Linked DNA regions of Homo sapiens. The protein of the gene in region 1 purifies or fractionates together with the protein of each later gene. This does not show direct contact. Each region holds a gene or a part of one and is shown on either strand. Other genes may lie near its edges.

Region 1 (2,938 bases):
GGAGTCAACCCTTTACCACACAATCCCTGTCCTGTGTCCCCAGGATGTTTTTGTTTCCGGATGATGTCTTGTGGGTTCCAAGAAGTTAATGGACCGAGAGCCAGTGAAGCTGCTGGTGCGAAGGCTGGAGTCAGGTGTCCTCCGGGGACTCACCACCCGCCCGAGAGGGGAGAGACACATGCGATTCTGGAAGCTGAGAGCATTGCTTATTGTTGATTCCTTGGTTGCCGTGCTGAGTCCTGCTTTAAGGAAGCAGGTGATAATCTAATAGTCATTTACTAAAGAAAGTGCATCTTAGGCCGGGCGTGGTGGCTCACGCCTGTAATCCCAGCACTTTGGGAGGCCAAGACGGGCGGGTCATGAGGTCAGGAGATCGAGACCATCCTGGCTAACACGGTGAAACTACATCTCTACTAAAAGTACAAAAAAATTAGCTGGGCGTGGTGGCGGGCGCCTGTAGTCCCAGCTACTAGGGAGGCTGAGGCAGGAGAACGGCGTGAACCCAGGAGGCAGAGCTTGCAGTGAGCCAAGATCATGCCGCTGCAGTCCAGCCTGGGCAACAGAGCGAGACTGTCTAAAAAAAAAAAAAAAAAAAAAGTCCTTTTCTGGCCCCGTATTGATCTCATCTCCGTCTGAGCCTTCAGTAGTGTGGATGGTGGGTGGTTTCCTGCCTCCCACAGCTCACGAGGCTCAGCTGTCCTCCATCCTTCCCCCTGTCCTTTGGTGCCTCTGTTTGCAAGATGTGCAGAAACACCAGAGGGCCAGAGGAGACCCTCCTTTTACTGAATGCTGGCAGCCTCCTGAGAACCACGTCTGCCAGCAGTAGAGAGCAGAGAGTGTGGACGAGCATGGGCGACTGAGGTCCCAAATGGCGCGAGCCGCTGGGCCCTCCTGCTTGTGCCGATGTCTCAGCCTCGATTGAAGCTGGAAGAAACCAAGGACAATGTGTCCTTTAAAAGTGTAAGGTTAGAAGGTGCCCTGACTCCAGCCGACCTGGAAAAGGACGTGTCCTGCATATCTGGAGGTGGCCCACACGGTCCGGGAAAGATCGGCTGCCTTGCCTGCATCCCAGGGCGCTTCCCGGCCTCCATTAAGAGGTGACCATTGCATCCACGTGATTTCTTTTGCTCCACTATTTCCAGGCACAGTGCAACTGACTCCCTCTTGAAGCTAGAATGCCCTGCACACCCGGGATGGACTTCTCTCCCCTTTCAAAGATCGAGTGAAGTTTGCAAATGTGAAAGGAAGGAATTGCATTTCCAGTGGTAACCTTTGAAGGGGAATGAAATTGTCACAGGACGTCAGGAGCCACGTGGGGGAGCCCGGTGTCCTCTGAGTCTCAACGCCCCTTGCTTCCCACTTGGTGACGGTCGATGGCTGTGTCCAGCGGTGAACGCTTTACCACAGGACTCTACGGTGGGGTAGGCAGCGCCACTTCAATGTGAAGACAAATGAACTGGCGTCTCTTGAGATAGGCCCCTGCCTCCAGGACCTCTCAGGCCCCGGGCCCTGGTTACTGCCGTGGAAGCTGCCTGTTCAGACGTCATCTCTATCACCCCTTGAAGGGAGACAGAGAGGTGTTTGCGAGTTGGATGTTTTATCTTGTCTTTCCTGATTCTTTGTTAGAACACCCCCAGGGCTTGGTTTTTGTTCTCAACCTGTGATTAGAAATAAGATCCTAAAGTGTCAGATCTGGAAGGCCCATGAGAGCTGAGGAGATCAAATGCCCGGAGCTCGGGAGATCAGATGACCTGGGGTGTCTGGAGCCAGTGGTGGCCTCATCTGCAGCATCTTCCTCTGTCCTGCCCACCACAGAGTCCCTGCTGGCCCCGGGGGGCCCCTCCTCCGCCACAGGGCCCCTGAGCATTGCTGCGTTTGTTTCTCCAGCTCCTCCTTCCTGCAGAAGCAGTTCCCAGAGGGGCAATTTCTCCAGCCTGCCTGGTTGGTTGTGTTGATTGGTTATAGTTGCTCTTTCAGGTGACCGCAGACCCTCTGAAGGCTGTGGCCGTGGGTGTGGCTCTATGGCCACCTCTCTCTCTTCTCCTCTCCCAGGTCGCGTCTCCTTCTTCACCTCGGGGTCCGAGAACCTACACCGCGTGGAGAAGGTCCACTGGGGCACCCGTTACGCCATCACCATCGCCTTCAGCTGCAACCCCGACCATGGCATCGAGGACCCAGCGTTCCCGTAGCCAGCAGCCGGGCCAAGGTAACTTCAGGAGGGCCCGTGTGGAGGCAGCCGCGCCAGTCGTGCACCCACCCCCACGTCCACCCGCTCCTGTTGCACAGAGTGCCTTAGGAATTCTCTGATTTTGATTTGCTGACGTGTTAATCTTTTCATCTGTGAGTAAATGAAGGGAACCAGCTTTTCACTTCTCCAGCATCATGTGTGCTTGGGCTGTAGGCCTGGGAGCCTGAGGTGGAGGCCAGGAAAGGGACCCAGCAGGACGGGGCACAAGTCCCCATCTGTGAATGGACGGGACTCATCCACCCAGGTTCAGCAACCCCCCGGGACTCGTCCAGGTTCAGCAACCCCCCGGCCCATCAAAGACTGGCTAAAGCATCAGCCATAAATGGGGACAAACGTGGGGCCAGCAGCTTCTGTTCGGGGTCTCGGCATCAGCAAACCGCAGCAGCTTTGGAGAAGGGTCCGTGAGTGGCGGCTCTGGAGGCAGCAACGGGGTCCTTTGGGGTGGGTGGGAGTTCTGCTGGATTCAGGTGGAGGTGAACATCTGCCGTTCCCACAGCCCTGCGTGCACCCCCAATGCTGCTGGCCCACAAATCACCGTGGGCCACGGCCCCACCACACCAGGCTTGGCCCTGTCAGCGGCCAGCATCCCAAGGGCCAGGGTCCGAGTGTCCTCACCAAGGAGGCTCTTGGCGTCGCTGTGCCGGCTCCCATGGGCCTTCTGCTGGGTCGAGGGTAGGTCTCCTCCTCCCC
Region 2 (3,500 bases), on another chromosome or scaffold:
GAGATGGTGTGAAAAAAACAGTTCTTACCATTCATGCTGAAGTATTTTCAGGTAAACAATTAAGGCTGTCTGGGGACTGTTAAGTAGGCCGGGGGAAATGAAACGAAATGAACGTGGCAACTGTTGAAGCTGAGTGAAAAATATACAGCGGTTCACTGCAGTCGTCTAATTTTATGTGTGTTGGAATTTCTATAATAAAAATCTTAAGAAAGAAAAATCAGAAAACTTGGGGCAATCCAGAAACTAGACAAAGACAGAGATTTTCAGTCCCTTCAATGAAATGCTGTCTGGCCTCAAAAGCACCTGGATCGCATCCATCCTCAGTCCCTGTGACACCATTTCCAATAAAATCATAACGTGCAATTCTTTTTTTTTTTTTTTCTTGAGACAGAGTCTTGCTCTGTCACCCAGGCTAGAGTGCAGTGGCTCGATCTCCGCTCACTGTGACCTCTGCCTCCTGGGTCCAAGTGATCCTCCTGTCTCTGTCTCGGCCTCCCGAGTAGTTGGGATTACAGGCACCCAGCCCCCACCCCCGGCTAATTTTTGTATTTTTAGTAGAGATGGGGTTTCACCATTTTGGACAGGCTGGTCTTGAACCCCTGACCTCAGGTGATTCACCTTCCTCAGCCTCCCAAAGTGCTGGGATTACAGGCGTGAGCCACCACCTCGCCGGGCCTTGAGTCTTTCTTTTAACAGCATGTGCTAAACTCCATTGTTCATTGCACTGGCTTCAGCCATCCATTGTTAGAATTTAACATTTTTAATTCTTTTTTTTTTTTTTTTTTTTGAGATGGAGTCTCGCTCTTTCACCCAGGCCAGACTGCCATGGCGCTATCTCGGCTCACTGCAAGCTCCGCCTCCTGGGTTCACACCATTCTCCTGCCTCAGCCTCCCAAGTAGCTGGGACTACAGGCGCCCACCACCGTGCCCAGCTAATTTTTTGTATTTTTAGTAGAGACGGGGTTTCACCGTGTTAGCCAAGATGGTCTCGATCTGCTGACCTCGTGATCCCCCCGCCTCAGCCTCCAGAAGTGCTGGGATTACAGGCGTGAGCCACCGTGCCCGGCCTTAATTCTTTACTTTGAAACCATTTCGCCTTTACAGAGAAGTTACAAGAATGGTGCATGAAACTTCCCTCTACTCTTTGCCCAGGTTCACTAATGTGTCACTCTTGCCCCATGGGCTTTATCATGGTCTGAGATGACAATAGTAGGCTGGAGACATCAAGCCCCTTTATCCTTTAACATGGCAGCGTGTATGTCCTATGAGTACAGACATCCTCTTACACCACCTCTGCACAATTAACAAACTCAGGAAAGACAAGTCTGACAACACGTTTAAATAACTTACGCTCACCTTCCAATTTCCTCAGTGGTTCCGTTAGTATCCACGACAGCATGTTTTTCCCTCCAGCACAGGGTCAGGGCCAGCACATGCACTGGACTGCCTTGTCCCTGTGGTGTATTGTATTGTACTGTCTTCTCTACCTACCCTGTGGTGTACTGTATTGTACTGTCTCCCCACCCCGCCCAGCCCCGCCCTGCCCTCCTTTCTCTTCTCTTCTCTTCTCTTTCATTTTTGAGACAGGGTGTTGCTCTGCTGCCCAGACTGGAGTGTAGTGGCACGATCTCGGCTCACTGCAGCCTCCACCTCCCGGGTTCAAGTGATTCTCCTGCTTCAGCCTCCCTAGTAGCTGGAATTACAGGCACATGTCACCACGCCCGGCTAACTTTTGTATTTTTAGTGAGGACGAGGTTTCACCATGTTGGCCAGGCTGGTCTTGAATTCCTGACCTTGTGATCCGCTGGCCTCAGCCTCCCAAAGTGCTAGGATTACAGGCGTGAGCCACCACACCAGGCCCCTGTGGTCTTCTTCAAGCTGGACCTGGCCTGCCCTGTTTCATCGCTCATGTCCTCGACAATTTTTGCTACAGACCATTGTTTCATAGAATGTCCCTCCATTTCGTTTGCTGATTTTTGCTCATAATCAGACTCTCTTCCCCAGATAGAAAGCAACCTAAATGATGTATGCTCTTGGGAAGGACGGCATCCATCTGCCCAAATCTGTGGCATTAACCTGGACCACCCAGGTATTGGGATGCAAATCTCGCCAGTCTACAGTTAGCAACTGTCCCTTGCCAACAAGGAATCTGTGGGGAAATCCTTTGAGACCACAGACATTTCCTGCTCCTCATCAAACATGTCTTCTTTAATGAGTTTAGCACTCATTCATGACGCCTGCCCAAATCAATCCGTACAGTTATTGCTGTAAAATGTGATTATTCCCAACTCGCCTCCCATTTATCAGTTGGCACTTTGCTCTAGGAAGTGCCCTCTCTTCCCCACCCCTCCCACTTAGGTTTTGTAGTAAATTAGTGTTTCCCTATCCACCCAGAAGCTCAGAAAGTGACCTTATTTGGAAATAGTCTTTCCAGTAGTAATAAGGAACATGAGATTAAATCATCCTGTATTTACAGTGGTCCCTAAATCCAATCACTGGTGTCCTTACAATAAAAGGTCATGTGAAAATGGCGATAGAAGTCAAAGTGATATAGCTCCAAACCAAGGGCACCATGAGCCACCAGGAACTAAAAGAGGCAAAAAAGTTTTCTCCCCTAGAGCCCTGGGAGGGATCGTGGCCCTGCCGCCACCTTGATTTTGGACTTCTAGCCTCTAAAACTGTGGGAGAATACATTTCTGGTTTTTAGGTCACCCCGTTTATGGCATTTTGCTACAGCAGGCCTAAGAAACTCATACATATAGTTATGTACTTATTATCAATGGTGAGTCCTGGATGCCTATTTTGTTCCTTGTATAATCCATGCTTGTCTTTATTTATTCTGATGCCTAAATGGTCCCAGACTTGGCTGCAACTCCTTCAAGTTGGCCCCTGAGTACATCTGCCATGCCCCCACCACTTTTCACCACTCACTTGCGTTCTAACACAAGAACACGTTTCAGGCTTATTGTGTATTTTTCCCTGTCCCCATCCCATATTCAGTCATTTCTCCAAGGTTCTCTAGCTCCTTTAAGATGCAACAGTATTGAGAAACCAACATCTGGGCACTAAGAAAGCTCACTGCTAATGAGGTGCTAAGAAATAACTGTTATGTGTAGAGTATGTTTTACAAATTACGGTGCATAATTTAACATAATATATACCAAATATATATATAAATGAAAGCATGAGTTACACTGATACCTCCAATTCCAATTCAACCCCTCCAGATTCTTCCTTGCCTTCCCCTATTCCATCCTTATATCTCCCTCCTTCCTCAGTGAGCACCCTGGCTACAACACTATTAACACACTTCTTATCTGTCTAATCTCACAATTCACACAAAGTCATTTCAGAATGGATATACCCACACCACTATGAAAATCAAACCTACTAAGAAGGGTGCCAGTTTTGCTTTCAGGTTGTTGTTTCTCCTGTAGGCTGAGGATACACCGTCAAAGCACTGAGTCCAACATTACGGTTTCTTTTCCCCCATCTGTGTA
Region 3 (4,222 bases), on another chromosome or scaffold:
TTCTAATAGAAATTAAAATAAAAAATAAAGAAAATTTCTTTATACATTGAGCTGAAATTAAACCCCACTGTGGCTTCCACCAATTTTTGCTCTCTGGAGCAACTCAAAACACATCTAAATCCTCTTCTACAAGCGAATCCTTTAAATATTTGAAAATACCTATGTCTCTCTTCTGTGCTCTTCTGGTACCAATAGTTTAAATGGGTAACAGTAGACTTTGTTTTATTCAATCTTTTAAAAAGCAAATAAAAAGTAAGACATGCTGGGTGCGGTGGCTCACGCCTGTAATCGCAGCACTTTGGGAGGCGGAGGTGGGCTGATCACGAGGTCAGGAGTTCGAGACTAGCCAGACCAACATGGTGAAACCCCGCCTCTACTAAAAATACAAAAATTAGCCAGATGTGGTGCACGCCTGTAACTCCAGCTACTCGGGAGGCTGCGGCCAGAGAATTGCTTGAACCCAGGAGACAAAGTTTGCAGTGAGCCGAGATCACGCCACTGCACTCCAGCCTGGGAGACAGAGCGAGACTCCGTCTCAAAAACAAAAAGTAAGACATTACCAATATGATGCCAACCCTCATGCACTCATCCCCAACCCCACACTTCTCTTCTCCCACCCCTTCTATCTGCTTTTGTATTTATTTAGCCTATGGGATCCCAATGCAGAGGAGCCCTGGTGGACGCATTTATAGTGCAGCGATGAATAGAAGACAGTGATAGTCTTATACTGGAGTTGAAATGTGATAAACATTTATACACTGTGTTTATAAGTCGTGTAACTCTGGCCAATTTATCTGGTCTTTCTAAGCTCACTTTCCTCGTCTGTAAAATGGGAAGAATAATCATACTTATTGCGCTGGTTGTTATGGGGATTAAGCAAGATAATTCTCTAAAGCTTTGGCACTTGGCGCTGAAAGTAGCCATTCCATGTCTTCTTTCCCGCCCCGCCTCTTGTGCTCCCCACCGCTTTCGTGATGTCCGCAGTTGCCCACCTGCCTCTACAATAAAAAACGCATCCCTCCTCCTGCAGGGTCCACCGCACCGGGAAGCCCTGTCTGTATCAGTTACCAACCACAATTGCAGTGAGTACGAATCGTGGCTTTCCCACAGTCAGGAAAGGCAAGGGAGACCGACGACCCGCTTCTCTAGGAGTAAGTAAAGATTAAAGGTAGTTCGCGGTATAGCCTAGGCAGGGATTAACCCGTGGTCCCAGCGCTCCTGCTATTTGCATTCCAAAGCAGACACCTCATGCGCTCAACCCCGCCCGCAGGCGGCTCCCGCAGTCTAAGGGACCTGGCGCGAGTCCGGGAAGCGGAGGGCGCAGCTGCGCAGGGAAGGGGGCCGGGGGCGGGACCAGGGCGCGCGTTCCGGTCCCGGGGCGTGGCCTCCCGCAGGTGAGTACGCTGCTCCTTCGGTTTCCCTGAAACCTAACCCGCCCTGGGGAGGCGCGCAGCAGAGGCTCCGATTCGGGGCAGGTGAGAGGCTGACTTTCTCTCGGTGCGTCCAGTGGAGCTCTGAGTTTCGAATCGGCGGCGGCGGATTCCCCGCGCGCCCGGCGTCGGGGCTTCCAGGAGGATGCGGAGCCCCAGCGCGGCGTGGCTGCTGGGGGCCGCCATCCTGCTAGCAGCCTCTCTCTCCTGCAGTGGCACCATCCAAGGTGAGAAACCTGGCCAAGGAGGGCTCTTATCTCTGAGGAGCTGGGGTCCTGGGCACGCTGGGCAGACGGTGGGATCCGGGCAGGTGTGCGAAGGCTGTTCTGCTGCCGGCACCCATCTCTACGAATCCCTTAGCCTCCCCTTGGTGGCTTTGATGTGAGGTCTCTGCGCCAAGGAGGCACCCAGGTGGGACATGCGGGAGCAGCTGAAGTCAGCGGAGCCGGGCAGAGGCAGAGATTTCCCCAAAGACCCCACTTCCCGTAGAGGCTGTCATGCTGGGCACCTCCAGGCCCCAGCGTGGGTTCGGGGAAAGGGAGGGAAGGAAGGAGTAGCTGTGTCTAAAGGGTACGCAGAGGACCTAGTCCCCTCCCCGGGCTTGGTTGCTTTGTAAACACTAAGTCATTAAGAGCTTTTTGCCAACTCCGGAGACTTCCTCCGCTGGCCCCGCGGGGCCGGTGGGGTTAGCGAGCTGATTGCGCAGGGCAGGGCGGAGTGGGTGGGAACCCGCGGCCCGGGAGCCTTCTAGGTTGTTTTTTGCGTCCCTCTCCAACTGCTGGAAGCCTTTCTTCGGGTTCTGGCCCCTGCGTTCGAGACCCACCCGGGTCCCGCTGCTCCTGGCACCCACAGTGGAAGGCCCGGGGTATGAAAGTCAGGGCCGGTCCCTGATGGGTTCTGGTGGTAATGAGCGCTCAGGCCCGTTGGGCGCCACGAGGATTTACGAGCGGAACTTTTTGGACCCTGCCTTATATTTGACCAGTTGACCCTCTGGGCCTGGGGTTCCGGGACTTTCCTAGTGTGCCACCCGGAGCGGCCACTGGCTGCCACCCAGGTCTGCAGGCCAGAGGCTGGCTGGCCTGGGAACAGAGCAGCACTTGCGCCCGGCCGTCGCGTTCCTTGGATGTGCTGCTCCGGGTGTGCTCGAACTTGTATTGCTGGGAGTGTGTTCTTCCGGGCCCAGCAGGCCTCGCTGTGGCCGTGGGGGATGTTTGACCTGCGATCGCGCCACTGTGATCCTAACCGAGGCCCCTCTGTTTGGGGCAGCCTGGGTAGCAAAGGGAGCTTTTAATTTCCCTCAGAAATGCGCATTTCTCACTTTTATCCTCCTCTTCATAAAGACGAAGTAAAAGAGCAAGTCACAGTGGGTTGGAATTAGATGGAAGAATGTGATTCTTTTCCCTCTGCAGTTAGGGAAAAGGGTGTTAATGGTGTAAGCTTGAAAACTGTGCACCGCTGGTATATTTTTTTTTCTTAATCAGCATCAGAATAAAGGCATTTAGTTCCAGGAAGTATTGAAAACTGTAATGGACACCTCTCCTCTATGTCCTTTAAAGTTGGAAACTTAAAATTCAGGAGCAAAGGTTAGTATGTGCAAACTTTAAAAAAATACATGTTGGTATAGCTGATTCAACATCTTTATGATTCAGAGATCCCTGTAGGAAGCATGCCCCGATTATTTGTCTTGTTCTTGTTTACTACTCTTGGGGGATTGGGAGATCCCTGGATTATAAGGCGAACTTGATTTAACAATAAGGAAAAATCAGGTTACTTGTTAACTATAGCCACTTAATATTGCACCTTGTTCCTCATCCTCCCCCCACCATACTTTTATTCCCTTGCAAAGTAACTTTCCCAAAGGGTTAGTGAAGTAACACTGACAATTGATTTAGGCAGATGGAGCTTTCCTCCCACCTTAAAACTAAATTGATTTTAATAAGAAATACAGTGTTAGCAAAGCTTTTCTGCCCTCAGGGTGGGTCTTTGCTCACTCGCTTTTTAGCCGGTCCTTCTGCGTGCCCCTCAGGTGGCTGCAGGGCCGATTTGGGGTTTGATTTTCTTCCCAAAGCCTCACTCCAAAAGACTGCCTCATAGAAACGAACTCAGCCGAGATCACAACCTTCTCAGGGTACAGGTGAAGGACACTGAATTGAGGAGGCAAGGCAAGGAAAACACTTGGAAATCAGGGCTTCTCTTTCCCTTTACAATAGTAATTGATAATTATTTGGGTAAACATGCTTAATATGTGTCCTCACTGCATCGTTAACTCCTGGAGGCAGGGGGCCCTACCATCCTTTCCATCACGTCTAGCATAGTCTCATCACCTACGGGACCTCAGTAAATAGCAAATGAATGAAGTGAGGAGTCTTGCCCAGAGTACCCTGGCTGGTCCATGTGGTGTTCATTTCAGTCAGCTTCTCTCTGCCACTTACTTATTTTTTTCCACCATGTTACAGGCCTAGGTCATTCCATTTATCTTTTGGAGACTGGAACTTCTGTTTTCTTTATAATTGGTTTGGTGGTTTTTTTTTGTTTTTTTGGTTTTTTGGGTTTTTTTTTTTTTTGACTCTCATTCGGTTGCCCAGGCTTGAGTGCAGTGGTGCAATTTTGGCTCATTGCAACCTCCACCTCTCCCGGGCTCAAGGAAGTCTCCTGCTGCAGCCTCCCGAGTAGCTGGGACGACAGGCACGCACCACCACCCCCAGCTAATTTTTGTATTTTTAGTAGAGACAGGGTTTCACCATATTGGTCAGGCTGATCTCAAACTCCTGACCTCAGGTGATCCACCCACC
Region 4 (3,500 bases), on another chromosome or scaffold:
ATCTTGACCAAATAAACCCTGTTGAAACAAAATGTTACTTTAAAAAGAATACATACTGCTTCAATAACTTCAGTGAATACTTAATATTGAGTAAAGTAATTACAACAATAATGTAGGATGAGGGACAAAGAAATGCTATACTCTGAATTTTCAATGTTTCTGTAACTTAGTGTCACAGAAAATACTCAATTCTTACATGAAAGAGGAATCTTTAAAGTGACTATTAACTGTAATTTTCTTCCCACTTATAAAAATATGTTCATGGCAAAAACCTGAAAAGCAAAAGCCCATTCAGATACTTATTCTTTCTGTGACTCCTCCATCCATAACTTAATAACTTCCTAGACATAATACTGTTAATTCCTTTGTGTGTGGGTGTATTTCAAACACTAAGCCACTAAATAAACTGATATAAAAGAAAACAAAAATCATTTATGTTCTACAAGAAACACAGAAGATATTTATTTAATTTACCTGTAGCCATCAAAACAGCAGATTGAGCTGTGCTAAGTTTTTCTGCAGGTCTGGCCATATCAGCCAATCCAGCACACACCAACCCCTACACATTAACGCATAGAAAGAAAAAAAGTATCACAAATGTGGAGTAATAGTTTTAACTTTAAATCAAGCACAAGACATTTTTGAGATTTCCGTAAGTTAGCAGCTATAATTTTAGTGTCCATTCATTAAGAAAATGTAGATTACAACAAAAAAAAAGCACAATGAATTAAAAAACTGCTTTTTGAACTAATTTTATTTTGTTAGGTACACTAAGCAGTCTCACATATCTGAAAGTCAGTAGTACATATATAGATAAGATGTATATGTATGCATTACACGTACATATATATTTTGGGTTTTTTTTGGTCTACCTATTTCACATATGAATTTATATACTCTTTATATATGTCAGGAACCACTAACCACTAGCATGGAAGATACCTAAAAGCTGTTAAGGTCATTTGTATAGATTCTTCCTTTGATGTTTTCTGCCAATGTTATCATTTTTAAATTAAATTAAATTTTAGATTTGGGGTATATGTGCAGGTTTGTTACATGGGTATATTGTGTGATGCTGAGGTTTGGGCTTCTAATGAATTATTTTTTAAAAGTATAAATATCAGAAAAACTTATAATTTTAGTTTTTTGGTTAGATCATTTTTTTTTTTTTAGACAGTCTCACTCTGTCACCCAGGTTAGAGAGCAATGGTGCGATCTAGGCTCACTGCAACCTCCACCTCCCAGTTTCAAGCAATTCTCATGCCTCAGCCCCCAAGTAGCTGGAATTACAGGCGTGTGCCAATATGCCTGGCTAATTTTTGTATTTTTAATAGAGACGGGGTTTCACCATGTTGGCCAGGCTGGTCTCAAACTCCTGACCGCAGGTGATCCGCCCGCCTCAACCTCCCAAAGTGCTGGGATTACAGGTGTGAGCCACCATGCCCGGCCTTGGCTGTTACGCCATTTTTCTTTAACATCAGCATATACATGGCCATTTCTCTTCTGTGTTTTTAACACTGTCTCTATTGCACTCATGCGTTTTTGCTCCCACCAGATGAGCTGTATTTTTACCAAGTCACTATGTTTGTCCCCAATCTATTTATGCCAGTTTTACTTGTTAATGTAATTTACATGATTTAATAAATTGTTTTTTTTTAAAAAAACTAAGCTGGAAATTATATAGGATGCACTGTAGTGTAATTTATCCAGGATAGAAAATGTGGAGCTCAGAAATCCATACACAAATAAAAGATTTAGCTTTAAAAAAGACTGATTGTCAATGAATATATATTTATATCCTTTAGGTTAAAATAAAATATTTAAGGTACATAGGTTTTTGTTTTTAGGATTATCCACTTTGACCTTTATGATTAGTTATGTGGTTTCAACTAAAGTGGTTACAAAGGACTCTACTACAGTTATATGTTTGAAGGCATATGGTCTGAGAGTCTTCATGTTATAGAACATATGTGGCTTGCAGAAGCAACTGTTATGTGTCATGTATAGAATTCTACAGATTAATTATCAAATACTCTGGGATAGTAAAACACAGTAAGAGGTATATAAGGTAAGTATCTAATAGAAGAAGTCTCCCCACCAGAGAACAAAACACAGAAGTTTCTATTGCTATGCTGTCATCTGGAGACTATGTATGATTTCAACATGTACTTAAAATAGATGTTCTTAAAGAGACAGATAGTCAAGAAGGCATTTATGAGTATATAATGCTGTCAATATCTCACAACAGTAATGAACCAGTTCAAATAAACCCCAAAGCTATTGATAAAATCAATAAACTCCTAAACTGTGGTAAATTTGAGATCAAAGAGGCCCCTAAATTTATTGTGAATAGATGAAATCACTCAAACTCTTTTAATGATTGAATACTTCAGCAATCAATTCCACTATAAAGATATATTATTACTATGTAATTTTAAGTGTAGGTAGGGAGAGAAGAAGGAAATGGTAATGTAACTTCCATTAGTATAGGGGGTTTTAGGATCTTTTCTCAATATGTAGATATGAAAAAAAAAACCTGCTCCCTAGATCTCTGTAAAATACAGCTCCCGAATGACTTATATTCTAATCTTGTCACTTTATAGTTGAAGAGACAAAATGACAAAGAGACTAAACTTGCCCAAGGCCATAAGATTGAGTCATAGCCAATTCCAACTCTAACATTCTCAACCACTTGAATTTACAACTGAGTTTCTGAATTGTTCTAACCATTTTAAAAGTACATTTAAGAGAATTACAACAGCCCATCACTCAACAACAACAAAAAACACCTTGATTAAATTAAAAAACAGGCAAAGGACTTGAATAAATATTTCTCCAAAGAATATACACAACTGACCAATAAGTACAATAAGTATATGTTCAGCATGACTAATCATTAGGGAAGTGCAAATAAAAACAAAGATATCTAACACCCATTAGGTGCCTATCATAAAAACAAAAACAAAAATGCTCCCCCATCAAAAGTAACAAGTGTTGGTGAGGATGTGGAGAAATTAGAACACTTATGAATTGCTGGTAGAAATGTAAAATAATGTAGTTGCTGAGGAAAACAAAAAATATTAAGCAGAATTATCATATGATCTAGCAATTCAACTTCTGGGTGTATACTAAGAAGAATTAAAAGTATTGACTTAAACAGATTCTTGTACATCAATGTTCATGGTAGCATTATTCACAACAGCAAAAATGTGGAAGCAAACCAATTGTCCAATCAACATATAGAAGAATAAACAAAATGTGGTAAATACATACAATGGAATGCTATTCAGCATTAAAAAGAAAGGAAAGTGACACATGTGACAACGTTAATGTACCTTGTGGACATTATGCTAGGGGAAATAAGCCAACTACAAAAAGACAAATACATTTTGATTCCATTTACATGAGGTACTTAGAGTAGTGAAATTCATAGAGACAGAAGGTAGAATGGTGGTTGCCAGGGACTGGGAGAAGGAGAATGGGGAATTATGGGTACAGAG

What was found. The genes of interacting proteins can lie anywhere in the genome.
Region 2: the proteins of OGFOD3 (region 1) and ROR2 purify together in Homo sapiens (affinity purification with mass spectrometry; one large-scale study listed by BioGRID and IntAct). This does not show direct contact.
Region 3: the proteins of OGFOD3 (region 1) and F2RL1 purify together in Homo sapiens (affinity purification with mass spectrometry; one large-scale study listed by BioGRID and IntAct). This does not show direct contact.
Region 4: the proteins of OGFOD3 (region 1) and MPC2 purify together in Homo sapiens (affinity purification with mass spectrometry; 2 studies listed by BioGRID and IntAct, with this or other methods). This does not show direct contact.

Annotation. Positions count from the first base shown.
Region 1 is NC_000017.11:82,391,649-82,394,586, reverse strand, and holds part of OGFOD3 (2-oxoglutarate and iron-dependent oxygenase domain-containing protein 3), read left to right. Parts: intron 1-43; coding exon of another isoform or gene 44-216; exon of another isoform or gene 217-256; intron 257-2,052; coding exon 2,053-2,189; 3' UTR 2,190-2,938.
Region 2 is NC_000009.12:91,940,229-91,943,728, forward strand, and holds part of ROR2 (tyrosine-protein kinase transmembrane receptor ROR2 isoform 1 precursor), read right to left. Parts: intron 1-3,500. UniProt on the Homo sapiens protein: Tyrosine-protein kinase receptor which may be involved in the early formation of the chondrocytes. It seems to be required for cartilage and growth plate development. Phosphorylates YWHAB, leading to induction of osteogenesis and bone formation.
Region 3 is NC_000005.10:76,817,608-76,821,829, forward strand, and holds the start of F2RL1 (proteinase-activated receptor 2 preproprotein), read left to right. Parts: upstream 1-1,422; 5' UTR 1,423-1,575; coding exon 1,576-1,657; intron 1,658-4,222. UniProt on the Homo sapiens protein: Receptor for trypsin and trypsin-like enzymes coupled to G proteins.
Region 4 is NC_000001.11:167,920,073-167,923,572, forward strand, and holds part of MPC2 (mitochondrial pyruvate carrier 2), read right to left. Parts: intron 560-3,500; coding exon 475-559; intron 19-474; coding exon 1-18. UniProt on the Homo sapiens protein: Mediates the uptake of pyruvate into mitochondria.